Linked DNA regions of Homo sapiens. The protein of the gene in region 2 purifies or fractionates together with the protein of the main gene of each other region. This does not show direct contact. Each region holds a gene or a part of one and is shown on either strand. Other genes may lie near its edges.

The links. The genes of interacting proteins can lie anywhere in the genome.
Region 1: the proteins of TXLNB (region 2) and CALCOCO1 purify together in Homo sapiens (affinity purification with mass spectrometry; 2 studies listed by BioGRID and IntAct, with this or other methods). This does not show direct contact.
Region 3: the proteins of TXLNB (region 2) and INSR purify together in Homo sapiens (co-immunoprecipitation; one large-scale study listed by IntAct). This does not show direct contact.
Region 4: the proteins of TXLNB (region 2) and SPDL1 purify together in Homo sapiens (affinity purification with mass spectrometry; 2 studies listed by BioGRID and IntAct, with this or other methods). This does not show direct contact.

What each region holds. Positions count from the first base shown.
Region 1 is NC_000012.12:53,713,953-53,717,452, forward strand, and holds part of CALCOCO1 (calcium-binding and coiled-coil domain-containing protein 1), read right to left. Parts: intron 2,464-3,500; coding exon 2,308-2,463; intron 2,096-2,307; coding exon 1,841-2,095; intron 1,374-1,840; coding exon 1,248-1,373; intron 742-1,247; coding exon 646-741; intron 290-645; coding exon 181-289; intron 1-180. UniProt on the Homo sapiens protein: Functions as a coactivator for aryl hydrocarbon and nuclear receptors (NR). Recruited to promoters through its contact with the N-terminal basic helix-loop-helix-Per-Arnt-Sim (PAS) domain of transcription factors or coactivators, such as NCOA2.
Region 2 is NC_000006.12:139,243,499-139,246,998, forward strand, and holds part of TXLNB (beta-taxilin), read right to left. Parts: intron 1,193-3,500; coding exon 1,097-1,192; intron 1-1,096. UniProt on the Homo sapiens protein: Promotes motor nerve regeneration. May be involved in intracellular vesicle traffic.
Region 3 is NC_000019.10:7,111,765-7,114,089, forward strand, and holds the end of INSR (insulin receptor isoform Long preproprotein), read right to left. Parts: 3' UTR 501-2,325; downstream 1-500. UniProt on the Homo sapiens protein: Receptor tyrosine kinase which mediates the pleiotropic actions of insulin.
Region 4 is NC_000005.10:169,590,273-169,593,772, forward strand, and holds part of SPDL1 (protein Spindly), read left to right. Parts: exon of another isoform or gene 1-557; intron 558-775; coding exon 776-952; intron 953-3,081; coding exon 3,082-3,276; intron 3,277-3,500. UniProt on the Homo sapiens protein: Required for the localization of dynein and dynactin to the mitotic kintochore.

The sequences.
Region 1 (3,500 bases), on a different chromosome or scaffold from region 2:
GGACCAGCTGTCTCCTCTGGATGAGGGGTATCATTAGACTAAACAGGGGCCAGGGTCTGGGAAAGAAAAGGCAAAACACATAGAAGGCAAAGGCAGCTCCCAGCAAGGTTACATGGAGCCTTCCTCAACAGCGGGAGGTAGAGTGGGGAAGAGGTGTTACAAGATTGGGGCTACACGGACTCAGCCCCACAGCGGCCTCCTCATCCTCTGTGGTGGCATCCTCATTCCACTTCTCATCTGCCACCTTCTCCAGGCGGGCCTCTAGCTTTCTCATGTACTCTAGCAATTCCTGGAATTGGGAAGGAAAAAGGCAGGTGCTAGAGAATGGGAAGGTGCCAACCTTGCTAGCCTGCAGAAGCTGCACCCAAGAAGAACTCTTAGCTCCTCAGCATTAGATGCCTTCAGCAAAGATTGGGGCAACTTCAGGCAGACACTCCCCCCAGCACCCCTGCTTCACCACTTACATCCCTCCCTTCTCCCAGAGATCATCCGCTGTCCTGCCAAATCAGCTAATAAGAGAAGCCAGGGTACGGGCCCTCTTGGAGAGAACAGTTTCTAAGCCAAGAGATGACAGGAATTTACAAAGTTTCTAGCCCTCAAGTCCTCACCTGTGGCATCCACGGGGCCTGGGTTATGGGTGCTCACCTGTTTCTCCTCCTGTAACTGCTCCTTTTCCTTCTGGAGCACACGCAGGGCTGACCGCAGCTCTGTCAGCTCCCGCTTACTTTCTGACAACTGTACCTGAGGGAAGAGGGCCCAATGGAATCTGGAGCCTAGAATGTACCTCCAAGAACCTGGACTCTGGGACCAGGACCAACAATCTAGAACCAGGTCTCCCCATGCCTCTGCTTCTTCCCTGCTCTGACACACACACACAGGAATTCCCAACACTTCCTCCATGAGTACTTTGTCTTGGGCCACAGATACTCAGTTTTCTAAGTCTTAGTCTCTGCCTCTCGAGTGGGGACCTGCATGACTTCCTCTAGGCTGGGGTGCAGAGGCCTTGGTCATACCAAGGGGCCACTCTATAATTCTCCTAAGTCACCTCTACTGGGCCCAGATGTGTGCCCTGAGAGCAGAAAAAAATGCACATTTCAAACCAATGAGGGCTTGCGTGTGCAAGTGAAATGCCACCCAACATGGTAGTGGACACCTAGCACTTCTGAGCCCATACCCAAGACAGAGAGAAGGGGTATGGATGCCTCAGGAGGCCATAGGACAGGACCCTTGGTGGCTGGATGCCTCACCAGGCTAGAATCCTTCTCCCGGGCCAGCTCAGTCTTGAACACTTGGTTTTGGGTCCTCTCCTCCTGAACTGCCTTCTCCAATCGAAGTATCTCTGCACTCAGCTTCAGGATCTTGTCCTTCTCTGCCTGAGAGATAGCCAAGAAGGAAAATGGGAGGGTGGAGGGGGAAGAAAAAGGAACGCCACTGTCAACAGCACCATCCCTTACTGTGTCCTTTCCTTTATTTAAAGCATCATTTTTAGAGCACTTTCCCCTTTTTGCCTTCATTTCCTATACCCTCTGAATGAAGGACAGGACATGACGGCAGGTGCTGCTTGATCAGGAATGGGCATTATGGCAGGGCCTGGGGTCTAGGACAGAAAATGTTTCTGTTCCAAGGAAGGTACTCTGGTGATCAGGATTGGGATACCCCGGTTAGGGATGGGTCATGCCTAGAAAGTAAAGTGTACCTCCCTCAAAGCCCCTCTCCACCCAAGTCCTCTAAGGTTCTCAACCCCTCTTCTCTCCTCCCAGAGGGTCTGACCACATGTAGGAGTCCCCACAGAGGTGGGGGCAGTGGCCATCAGATTGCCAGGTACCCCCCATCCCTCTACCTCCACACTCTGCAGCAGCCCTGCCCGCTCCTTGCTCCATTGGCATTTTTCTTCCTTCAAGTGCAAACCGAGCTCAGCCAGCCTGCCGTTAACTTCAGCCACTTCCAGGCGGCTGCGGTGTAGTTCGGCTATGGTGCGGTCCCTGGCTGCTGCTGCACTGGCCAACTCCTCCCCAAGAAGGGTGGCTTTCTGCTGGCTTGAGGCTGCAAGCTCCTGGGCCCCTCGAAGCTGCTCCTTCAAGGGCTCCAGCTCGGCCTCAGGAGAAAGGAGGAGATGGAGATCAGAGTTCCTAGTGAATCATTCATCAGCCAGGGAGGTAAACGCTCCCTCCACTCCACTGCATTAGGACTCGGGGTTGTGTTGTTTAGTCTTTAGCCATGTCTCTCCCCTTCTCTTTAGACACGCAGGCTTCTCTACAACTTGCCCTTGGAATTTCCCGTTTCCTGTTGCCAAGGGGCCTCACTCACCACCCGCTGCTGGGCCTGGCCTAGGGTGTCCTTCATCTGGGCCACCTTGTCTTTCAGTCGCTGAGCCTGAGCACTCTGCTCCTCTTGCCAGCTCTTCGCCTCCTTCAGGTCCAAATTTAAGTGATGGTTCTCCTGTTGTGCCACTTGGAGCTCAGCCTGAGGGAAGTGGAAAGCAGGTAAGGAAAGGGGTATGTGTGTTGGGGTGGCTCGGGAGGTGAACCATTGTGATGAGAGAGGTCAAGGTTCCACTTCTCAGATTTAACACACACTCAAGCCTTCAGCTATTGCCAGCCCTTCTTGGGTTCTCAGCTCAAATAACTCAATCCTGCATATCCAGTCTCCAGCTCCCAAATTGAGGTATCCAGCATCGCAGCCTTGGGTCTTCTGTGTAGGCATTCCATGTACCATTTCTGCTACTCTATTCTTTCTCTTAAATCAAAACTCAGTCTTCATGCCCTACAGGCCCCTTAAACTCAACAGTCTACCTCTCACCCCATCCCAGTCTTTCCTACTCTTATTTCCGTCCAGGGTACCAACTAGCTCCCACGTTACTCAGGATGGAGTAACCTGGTGCCCTTGGTGCCATGCTTGGCTCTGTCCTCTCCCTAGCGGCCCACAGAAAAACCTATTGCTTCTCCATCCTGGTCACAGCCATTTTCCCTTCTCTATTACCACCACAACCACGTTATCTCAGACTCTGGTCATTTCTTGCTTGGACTACTGAATAACTTCATAAATAGTTCATTCTCCACAAGGGAATCAGATTATTCTTCTTTAGGTACAGTTCTGATTCTTTAAATACAGTTATTTTCTTTTTTAGAGATAGGGTCTGGCTCTGTCGCCAAGACTGGAGTGAAGTAGCATGGTCACAGCTCACTGCAGCCTCCAACTCCTGGGCTTAAGCAATTGTCTCAACTCAGCCTCCCCAGTAGCTGGGATTATAGGTGTGTGCCACCACGCCTGCCTAATTTTTGTATTTTTTTGTAGAGATGAGACAGGGTCTCACTATGTTGCCCAGGCTTGTCTTGAACTCCTGAGCTCGAGGGATCCTCCTGCCTTCACCTCCCAAAATGTTGGGATTACAGGCGTGGGCCACTACACCTGGCCATAAGTACAGTACACGTCACCCCTGCTTGAAAAATCATCAAAGCCTTTCACGCTTGTGGAATAAAAATGAAGCTCAAGATCCACCA
Region 2 (3,500 bases):
TTTTTTTTTTTTGGCATTGTGTACTAGACTGGTAGATTCTTTAATCACCATACCCTGTTCATTGGGAAAGAAAGATGGTCAGGCTTCCTTCTGCTTTGGTCCATAGCCTCTCAAATCTTATGGATGAATTTTCTGCTTCTGAGACTTAGAAGGTAGAAGCAAGACTTGCGGCAAGATAAATGAGATGGATTGGGACTTGGGTTTCAGCAATGCCTTCCTTATCTGTTCTATGAATAAACTGCTATGTGCTAATCCCAGCAGCCATTTGATTTATGTTGATGAGTAATATCTCTTTGGAATTGGTTGCAATTTGAGAAGAATTGTTAGAGCAGTAATTATAACCATAGAAATTCACCATATACTAATTCACGATGCTGGCTGCTCAAACGGTTCAGTTTTTTCCTCTAGAAATGTCTATTTGTGCATGAAAATGTTCCTAATTATCTCACTCCTTCACCTCACCTCTGAGCTACTCTGTCCCTTTGAGACCTTTTTTCCCCCACTCGTTATACATGGAGAGACCTTCACCTGTAAGCCCTACCTCTCAGGTCAGGGGCCATGTATCTTTGCCTTTGGACTCTCAAAACCTACTTGGAGCCTGGCATGAGATCAGTGTTTAAATGTCTATTGGAGGAATTAAAAAGATATCTCCATATCTGTTTATATTAGAAAATAGCACATGCACTGGACTCTTGGGCTGGTGTCTTCTCGCAGTATGTTCAAATCAACTAATTAATTTATTCAGCACCTGTTATGTGTCAGACACTGGGGAAATTTAAAGTAAAATAAGACACTCATCCTACCTTTAAGGAATTCACAGCCCTTAAAGGGGACAGCTGCCCTGGGTACAGCTATTGAATCAACAGGTAAGCATGTGACTTAGGGTCACAAAACTCTTTCTGAGTCTGGACCTGATTCTAAATGACCTTTGCTCTTATTATACTTATTACAATTTAAAATGTCACATCCTGCCACCCCAAATTCAACTCTTTTTCACACATAACCATTTGTACTATTACCAGGTTATAATTGTATCGTAAGTTTGAATGTTTTGACTAGACAGAGGGGATTAAAGCTAAGGGAGAAACTTCCTCACCTCTTCAATCATGTCCAACAGAGCTTTGTTACAGTTCTCAAATCGGGCTTTCCATGTGGCTGTGTCCTTTTCCAGCTTCTTCATTTTCTTAGTTGTCTACAGAAATTAGAGTGAGTGTGTGTTAATCTTGAAAAGTTAATATATCAAGGAAGCTATTAGCTCCATATGTGAGACCAGGAGAAGCCCTTTTGTTACCAGATGCTGAAGCAAACAAATGTTCAATGTCAAGAATGAAGATTGTAGCAGAGTCATAATTTATTTCTGAGCCGTCTAGGGCAGTGGCAAGCAAACTTATTTGCACCTGAGCCAATTCAGGAAATGGGAAATGACTTAGGGGCACATGGTTTTGTCACTGCTTTTTCTTTCATTTAAAAGAAGAATATCTTTATGGAGTTCCATGAACAAGCCTGTAATTTAGGATATTTACTGTATTGAATAGAAGACTATCACAGTGGGAAAGCTGGCATGGCCTTTTTAGCCATTAAAATGTTGATAATATCTGGGCACATCTGAGAAGTTGCTGCACAAAAGCAGTCTCTGTATTTTCTGGGTCTTTACATTTATAGAGTGAGGTAGAGTTCACAAAATGTGATTACATGCATTATTTGTTTCATCCTTGAAACAGTCCCACAAGGAAGGTTCTATTTTCACCCCCATTTTATAAATGGGGAAACCGAAGTTCGGAGAGGTAGAGTAATATTTAGGTGAATTAACAGAACAGTGGGGCTGCCATTCTTTTATTTCATTTAATGAAGCATATAGAATGTCTGGTGGTCACCAGGCCCTGGGCTGGGTACGAGGAAGTAAGAAGTGAATAAAATGCAGCCTGTGTTTTTCGAACCTGAGGCTACTCACATTCTTGTTTGTAGGATCTCTTCTTTGCTTAGATGAAGTGGAGAACGAGGCATGTACTCAGGTGCAGTTTTCCTGGATGAAACATAGCTGGGCACTCGCTGCTTGGTGCCAAGCTGCCTGAAGCTGGGTACCCACGGAGGCCAGAGGCTGGGCCCAAGACTGTCAGCCCCTGGCTCTACAGACAAGCTAGGTTTTTAATTTTGATCATATTTTAAATTAGTTAGTAGTTTGTAAACTTCTTTGTTTTCTTCTTTTTTGTTGTTGTTTGTTTTTCACTCTTTTGCCCAGGCTGGAGTGCAATGGCGTGATCTCGGCTCACTGCAAACTCTGCCTCCCGAGTTCAAGCGATTCTCCTGCCTCAGCCTCCTGAGTAGCTGGGATTACAGGCGCCTGCCACCATTCCTGGCTAATTTTTTTGTATTTCAGTAGAAACAGTGTTTCACCATGTTGGCCAGGCGGTCTTGAGCTCCTGACCTCAAGTGATCCACCCGCCTCAGCCTCCCAAAATGCTGGGATTGCAGGCATGAGCCACTGCGCCCAGCCAGTTGTTTGTAAACTTTAAGGTCATCAATCTTTTTAAGAATGTGGTGAAAGCTATGGGACCACACTTCACAAAAATGTGCATATGTGCATCATTTTTTTTTATGGTAATTTCTAGAGAGTTCTCAGGTCAACTACTAACGTCCATAAATGGACCCAAGATTAAGAACTCCTGATTTAATATTTATTCCACTCTTAAAACTACATAATTTTGAAAAACATGTTTTCCTGTTCTAATTTATTCCAATCTTAAAATGCTAGAATTTCAAAAAAAAATTAAGCAAATGGATAGTTCCATTCTGAAGTGGGAGAACTGTAACATTTAACAAGTGCCAATCTTCTTCAGGTTGCTCATTGTAAAATTTGTCATAATATTTTAAAAATATATTTTAAGAGGATGTTTTCTACACCTCAAAACCATTAATGCCAATCCCTGTTCGGAAACACAGTTCTGATGGCTGATTTTGTATTGGGAAGACACTGAACAAGCTTTAAACATTACATTAAATTATAATACTGGCACCTTATATTTGAAAAATACATGTAAAAAGTTAAAATCCCTTCCAAAATGTATTAATTTAACTTCACAATCTTGTGAGTTAGGCAGGGAAAGTAGTATCTGCATAGATTAAAAAAAATTAGAGGCCAGGCATGGTGGCTCATGCCTGTAATCCCAGCACTTTGAGAGGCCGTGGTGGGTGGATCACATGAGGTCAGGAGTTCGAGACCAGCCTGACCAACACGGTGAAACCCCGTCTTTACTAAAAATATAAAATTAACCGGACATGGTGGTGCATGCCTGTAATCCCAGCTACTCGGGAGGCTGAGGCAGGAGAATTGCTTGAACCCGGAAGGCAGAGGTTGCAGTGAGCCAAGATCGCACCATTGCACTCCAGCCTGGGCAACAAGAGCGAAATTCCATCTCAAAAAAAAAAAAAAAATTAGATTCAGGAAGTTAAGTGAATTGATGAGTAAGACCACTTGATGAGCAAGAACACACCAGAATTGA
Region 3 (2,325 bases), on a different chromosome or scaffold from region 2:
CAAGAAAGACTATTCAAAAGGCTTTCAATCCCATGGTCTAACCCATGGTCACTCACCTGTCCACCCAACCTGGGACAGGTCTCCACTCCCAGGATGACATTGAAAATACTTAACATATGAGTTTCCCGCATGTCAGAATAGAGCAAGATCTTGAAGGTTCATTGGTATTCTCGGAGTGAACCCTTTAGTGGTTGGACCATGGGGAGGTCTGGGAGCCCTTGGGGAAGCGCTTACTTACCAAATGGTATGGAAATAGTGCAATATTTAAACCACCAGTTTGGCCATACAAGTATGTCCCTACGAGTCATCAACTCTGCTGGTAGCAACTATTTAACCTCCCTTTTCATGTGTGGAAGAATCTAGGTGTTTTTCTCCTCTAAAAAAAGGCACCTACATATTCCAAGAGGTTTTCCTTAACACAGCCCAACTCATAGCCACATCCCCCGACCACACGACAGGTCCTTACCGGGACACCACACAAAAACAAGCGTATTCTCAGATAATTTAATCAGAATTTTAATATAAACAGGTCATTATCCCATATTTTACATGCAGAACGATTTCAATATTCCAAAAAAAAAGGCGTCTTCTGTACATGGTGCTACTTGGCTCTTGTAGGAAAACATTGAAAAAATAATAATTGAGCTGTTGGGGGGTTTTGTGTTTCTGAGTTGTTTTCTGCAAAAGCTGCAGCACATTTGATCCTGCGTTGCCAACGCACAGGGCCGAGGCCACCCAGGCACACAAAGGGACGAGGAGAAGCAACTTTCAGGCAAAGTGTAAAGACTAAACAAGCTGTTCCTGAATATGTGCATGGGTGCACACTTATTTTGAGGCTCTTCCTTCCTTCTCCAATGGGACCAAGAGCCCCAGATTTGTGATCTGGTTTTTAACAAGGATTTTCAGTGGCCCGCACCCAGATAGAAATTTGGCTGGTGGCTGGTTCTGGACCTTGACTAGTATCAGAAGGTAAAAGTAAGCTCAAAAAGCCATTGTGTCCCCTCCCCTCACTCCCATTTCTCGGGGACCCTTAAGGAAATATTCACCTTCCATTGCACTCCCTGAAAGTCCACCATGTTCTTTTGTATGTTCTAGGAAAAAAAAAAGTGCTGACCTGTTCTTTTCATTCCCAACCTCACCTCGCATATAAATTAATATTCTGAAGAACATGCTGGAAGATTTTCTGAAGTGACACCCCTCTCTGTGTACCATGTATATAAAATCGGCATTCCCTGTTCCCCATCCTCAACAAAACCATTGTTTCTGAAGAGCCTAAGGTGTCAAGGACTCACCAGGTGACATTCAAAGGACATTTAACCCTAAACTTCCACCCACTGTGAAGGAGAGAAATGATTAGCACTGGGACTACAGCACATCCATTTACCGGATGACCAGCGCAAGTCATATGCTGATGACGCTCCTGCTCTTTCACACGTGTTACAGCAGACTACAAATAAACACCTCCCAATCCAATAAGCACATTTCTTGGTGGACTACCTGCCCTGCTAGGATACAGTGAAAGATCTGTCTGTCAGTTGGTAACATAGTCCCCAGGGTCACAGGATGACCTATGCAGACCCTTGTGTCAGTTCCCACAGCTTCTCTCAATCATCCTCAGCCTATATCCAGACAAGCAGCAGTGCTTCTCTTTCTCACTGCTTCCAATGATGAAACAGCACCTAGGACAGCTCCTAAAACCTGAACATTTTCTGATGCGTATTTGACATCACTGATGCAGAGAGAAAGTGATGTGCTTGGTATTCTCCTCCTGGAAGAAGGAACTCCTGTGTGGCTTTCACTACATTAATGAAAAGGGTTTTAATCATAGTGAGACATCTTTAAGAACAAGCAACAAAAAGTGTTATCCTAAGCTGGTTTTGTTGCTTTTTGTTGTTGTTGTTGCAACTTAACACTACAAACTCCCAGGACAACCGTGTCTTTCTAGGACCAAAGTTTTATTGTTACAAAGTCAACATTTCCTAATGTCAAAGGAGGTTTGCAACCCAATAGCTGTTTGCTCTTTTCACTGTGGCAGTAGAGTCAAATAAATGAAACTGGTGAATCCCATTTGCAAGGGGCAGGCCCAGCACACCCTACCTTTCTCCAGGGCAGGTGGAGAAAGGTGAGTCTGCAAGGGCAGTGCCTAAAAGTACAAGAGCAGCAAGATTTGGGCCCCACTGGTCCTGCCTAGACTCTCACATGGGTTATCAAAGCTGCACAAGGTCCAATAATATCAGCTTGAGGTCAGTCAAACCCCAACACAGAGGTCCAAGGTGTTGTTGCAAAAAAAAAAAAAAAAAAAAAAAAAGCGTTCAGCACATTAAT
Region 4 (3,500 bases), on a different chromosome or scaffold from region 2:
AAGAACTGAGTGCAAAGTCATAAAGGCAAAGTAAAGATTACAAATATCACTAATAGAAAATAAAACTGTTATACTTAATCATTTTGAGTCATAACTTGTCAAATTTCAGTGTTTAACAGTTAATACTCTTTGTCTTCCTTTAAAATAAAATGGTTTTTGAGGGGAATATTTTATCATTTTTTAAAGCCTCTTGAAGGAGTTCGTACTTGTAACATTTTTAATGTCTAAACTTCCCTGTGAGTAAGCAAAAGCCCTTTTAATTACTCCTTTTGTCTCAGCTCTGCATTCATTCTGATAGACCTTTTGTGACATTTCTCAGATGACTACATTCTGAAAGTAAAGGCTAATTCAGTATTTCTTTTTTTTCAACTATTATTACTACTACATTGTGTTCAGAGCTACAAGTAGAGCATCTCATTATCAAACTAATAATTCTCATGAGGAAAGCTTAAGTGCTGTTAAATCTTTTTTTGTTGTTAGCAGAGATTACTTGACTTGACGTGTTGACATACCATGGAGCACATTTTACTTCCTTGACAAGGCACAGAAGCAGTAAGGTATCCCTTGCATGGGTTTAACATAGTTTCGAAATACACCTCAGGGGTTTATTAAGACTGATTAACTACAAAGTTATTCCAGGTTTAACATGTCTTCGTTATTTGGAAAGCAGCAAATGCTTGAAATAAGAATGAAACAATTGAAGTTGAAAACTGATTGTATGTAATGGCTTTAGGCTATTTTTATGTAATTGAATTGTAATTGAATCTGTTTTCAGAGTTATGAACAAGAAAAATATACCCTTCAAAGAGAAGTTGAACTCAAGAGTCGAATGTTAGAAAGTTTGAGCTGCGAATGTGAAGCTATTAAACAACAACAAAAAATGCACCTGGAGAAATTGGAAGAACAACTAAGCAGAAGCCATGGACAGGAAGTGAATGAACTAAAAACTAAGGTTGGGATATCTGCGTATTTCAGCACAAAATATTCCATATTTATGCAGCCATCTGTAAACTTTAGATGATAAAGATTTTCTTAAGTGTCAGCTTTGCAAAATAGCCAAGATCTAAGTCTTCATTATCTTAATATTGGGGGTGGGAACACTGAGATACAAGAGTTTGTCTAAGGGACTTGTATAAATTATATCCTATTAATTAAATACAATTATTTAATTTTGGTTGCTGGATATTTGTGAAGGTTTAGTTTAGTGACTAGCATGGCCTCCTTGCTGATAGTGGGTACAGCAGCCCCTTGCAGAAAGCCTCGTCTCCTAGCCTTCCCTGCAGTCAGTGGTATGCTTTGTAATTCTGTAAAACAGACCAGTAGTTTCTTACTAGTTAATGTGCATTACAAATGACACTTTATAGTTTGTTTACTGAGGATAAACTAATACATGTGCTCCAGTTCTTACAATAATATTGTGGAAAGGTACCATTATCATTTCCATATACCAGATGAAAGAGCCAGTGTTTAGACAGACTGAGTAAATTGGACACAATTCAAGAACTAGAAATTCTCCATCTAGGTTTGAACTGAGGCTGTCTGACTCCAAAGGCTGTGTTACTGAATCACTACATAGTCTAACAGCATGTTACACTGGCTCCATTTCAAACATAAACGCAAGATAAATGATTGGTCAGTGGTTTTCCCTTTTCCCAGCTAGCCAGTGCTTTCAGGTTGCTTCTGAGGAATCCAGAACTTTTTATCATGGATCTGCTTTGTGTATAGTCTATACTCTGACTTTTCCAGACACTGTCTACCAAAACTTGCCTGACTTTTGTCCTCCTTTCTCAGAAGTCTGTTACCCAATTTTCAGCTTCTTGTATAGCAGCCTCTAAGATTTTTCTTTTTCTGTATACCACCTATACTATTACTTAATTTCTCATTGACTCTCTTTTAATGTTTACTGATTTTAAGAAACATCAATGAAAGTATTTTTTTTTCCTTTTTTTTTTTTTTTTTTTTGAGGCAGAGTCTCACACTGTCGCCCAGGCTGGAGTGCAGTGGCATGATCTCGGCTCACCTGCAACCTCTGCCTCCCGGGTTCAAACGATTCTCCTGCCTCAGGCTCCTAAGTGGCTGGGATTACAGGTGTGCGCCACCACGCCCAGCTAATTTTTGTATTTTAATAGAGACAGGGTTTCACCATGTTGGTCAGGCTGGTCTCTAACTCCTGACCTCGTGATCCGCCCACTTCAGCCTCGCAAAGTGCTGGGATTACAGGCCTGAGCCACTGCGCCTGGCCAAAATTACATATTTAAGCTTGCTTATTTTTTCCCAGTATACACTAAAACAAACATAGCTATCTAAATATACCTTCATGTAATATATAATCATCTTGCATACCACTCTGACAGATAATATCATCCAGCTTGTCTGAAACTAGTCGGATTTGAGGCCCTAATGACTGATAATGATGTGCTTTCTTCCCCCTCTGGTTGTTATTTTTATTTTTGCAATAGTTTTCATCACCTAAACAAAAAAGAGTAATAAAGGGAGTATTCAGGACTGAGGTAAGGCTAATTATAGAGATGGCTTTTTTTTTTTTTTTTTTTTTTGGTGGAGCAAAGAGTACATTAGTGAAATATTTTGTTTTACTGATTTTCTCAAATCACTTATGCCAAAATTTGGATTTTTTTAATACCTTTTCTTCTCTTATTTTTCACATTTAATTCATCAAGTTCTAAGAACTTGACCTACAAAACATCTATGACGCTACTGCCACTCCAATCCAGACCTTCATCATCTCTTTCCTGGACTACTGCTGTAGCCTTCTGACCAGGTTGCTTGCTTCCATTGTTTCTCTTCATGCCAGTCATTCTTCACACAGTAGCCAAGTGGTCCGCATCATAGTGCCTCCAGATTGCTTCTGAGGCATCCAGACCCACCCCGATTACTCATGGATTATTTCTATGTTTATTAAACAAGGTGTGTCACTAGCTGTTAAAAGATGCCTAACCTTGGGCAAATAGGAAACTCCAATAGTATCATCATTCAGTAAGTTTGGTTCAATCAGTTCAATCAGTGATTGTTTTTAGAAAGAAAATAACTTTCAATTTATGACTTTTTTTTTTTTGGCTTTAGATAGAAAAACTGAAAGTGGAATTAGATGAAGCCAGGCTTAGTGAAAAGCAGCTGAAGCACCAAGTAGATCATCAGAAGGAACTCCTCTCTTGTAAATCAGAGGAACTGCGCGTAATGTCTGAACGTGTGCAGGAAAGCATGTCTTCAGAGATGCTGGCTCTTCAAATTGAGCTGACAGAAATGGAGAGTATGAAGGTAATTTTTATGGCATGTGTTTCTCAGGGTTTTCTCTTTTTTTTTCTGGCATATTTTTACATGTTTTGGTAATAATTCTTAAGAGCTAGTTTGAAGGCTGAAACATTTTTTGACCTAACTTGCATCTAACTAATTAAAAAATGGGTTTTTTTTAGGTGGATGACTTCATTCATAATATAGCTTTAGACTATATGATTATGTAAGGCAGCCTTTCTCTTAGATTA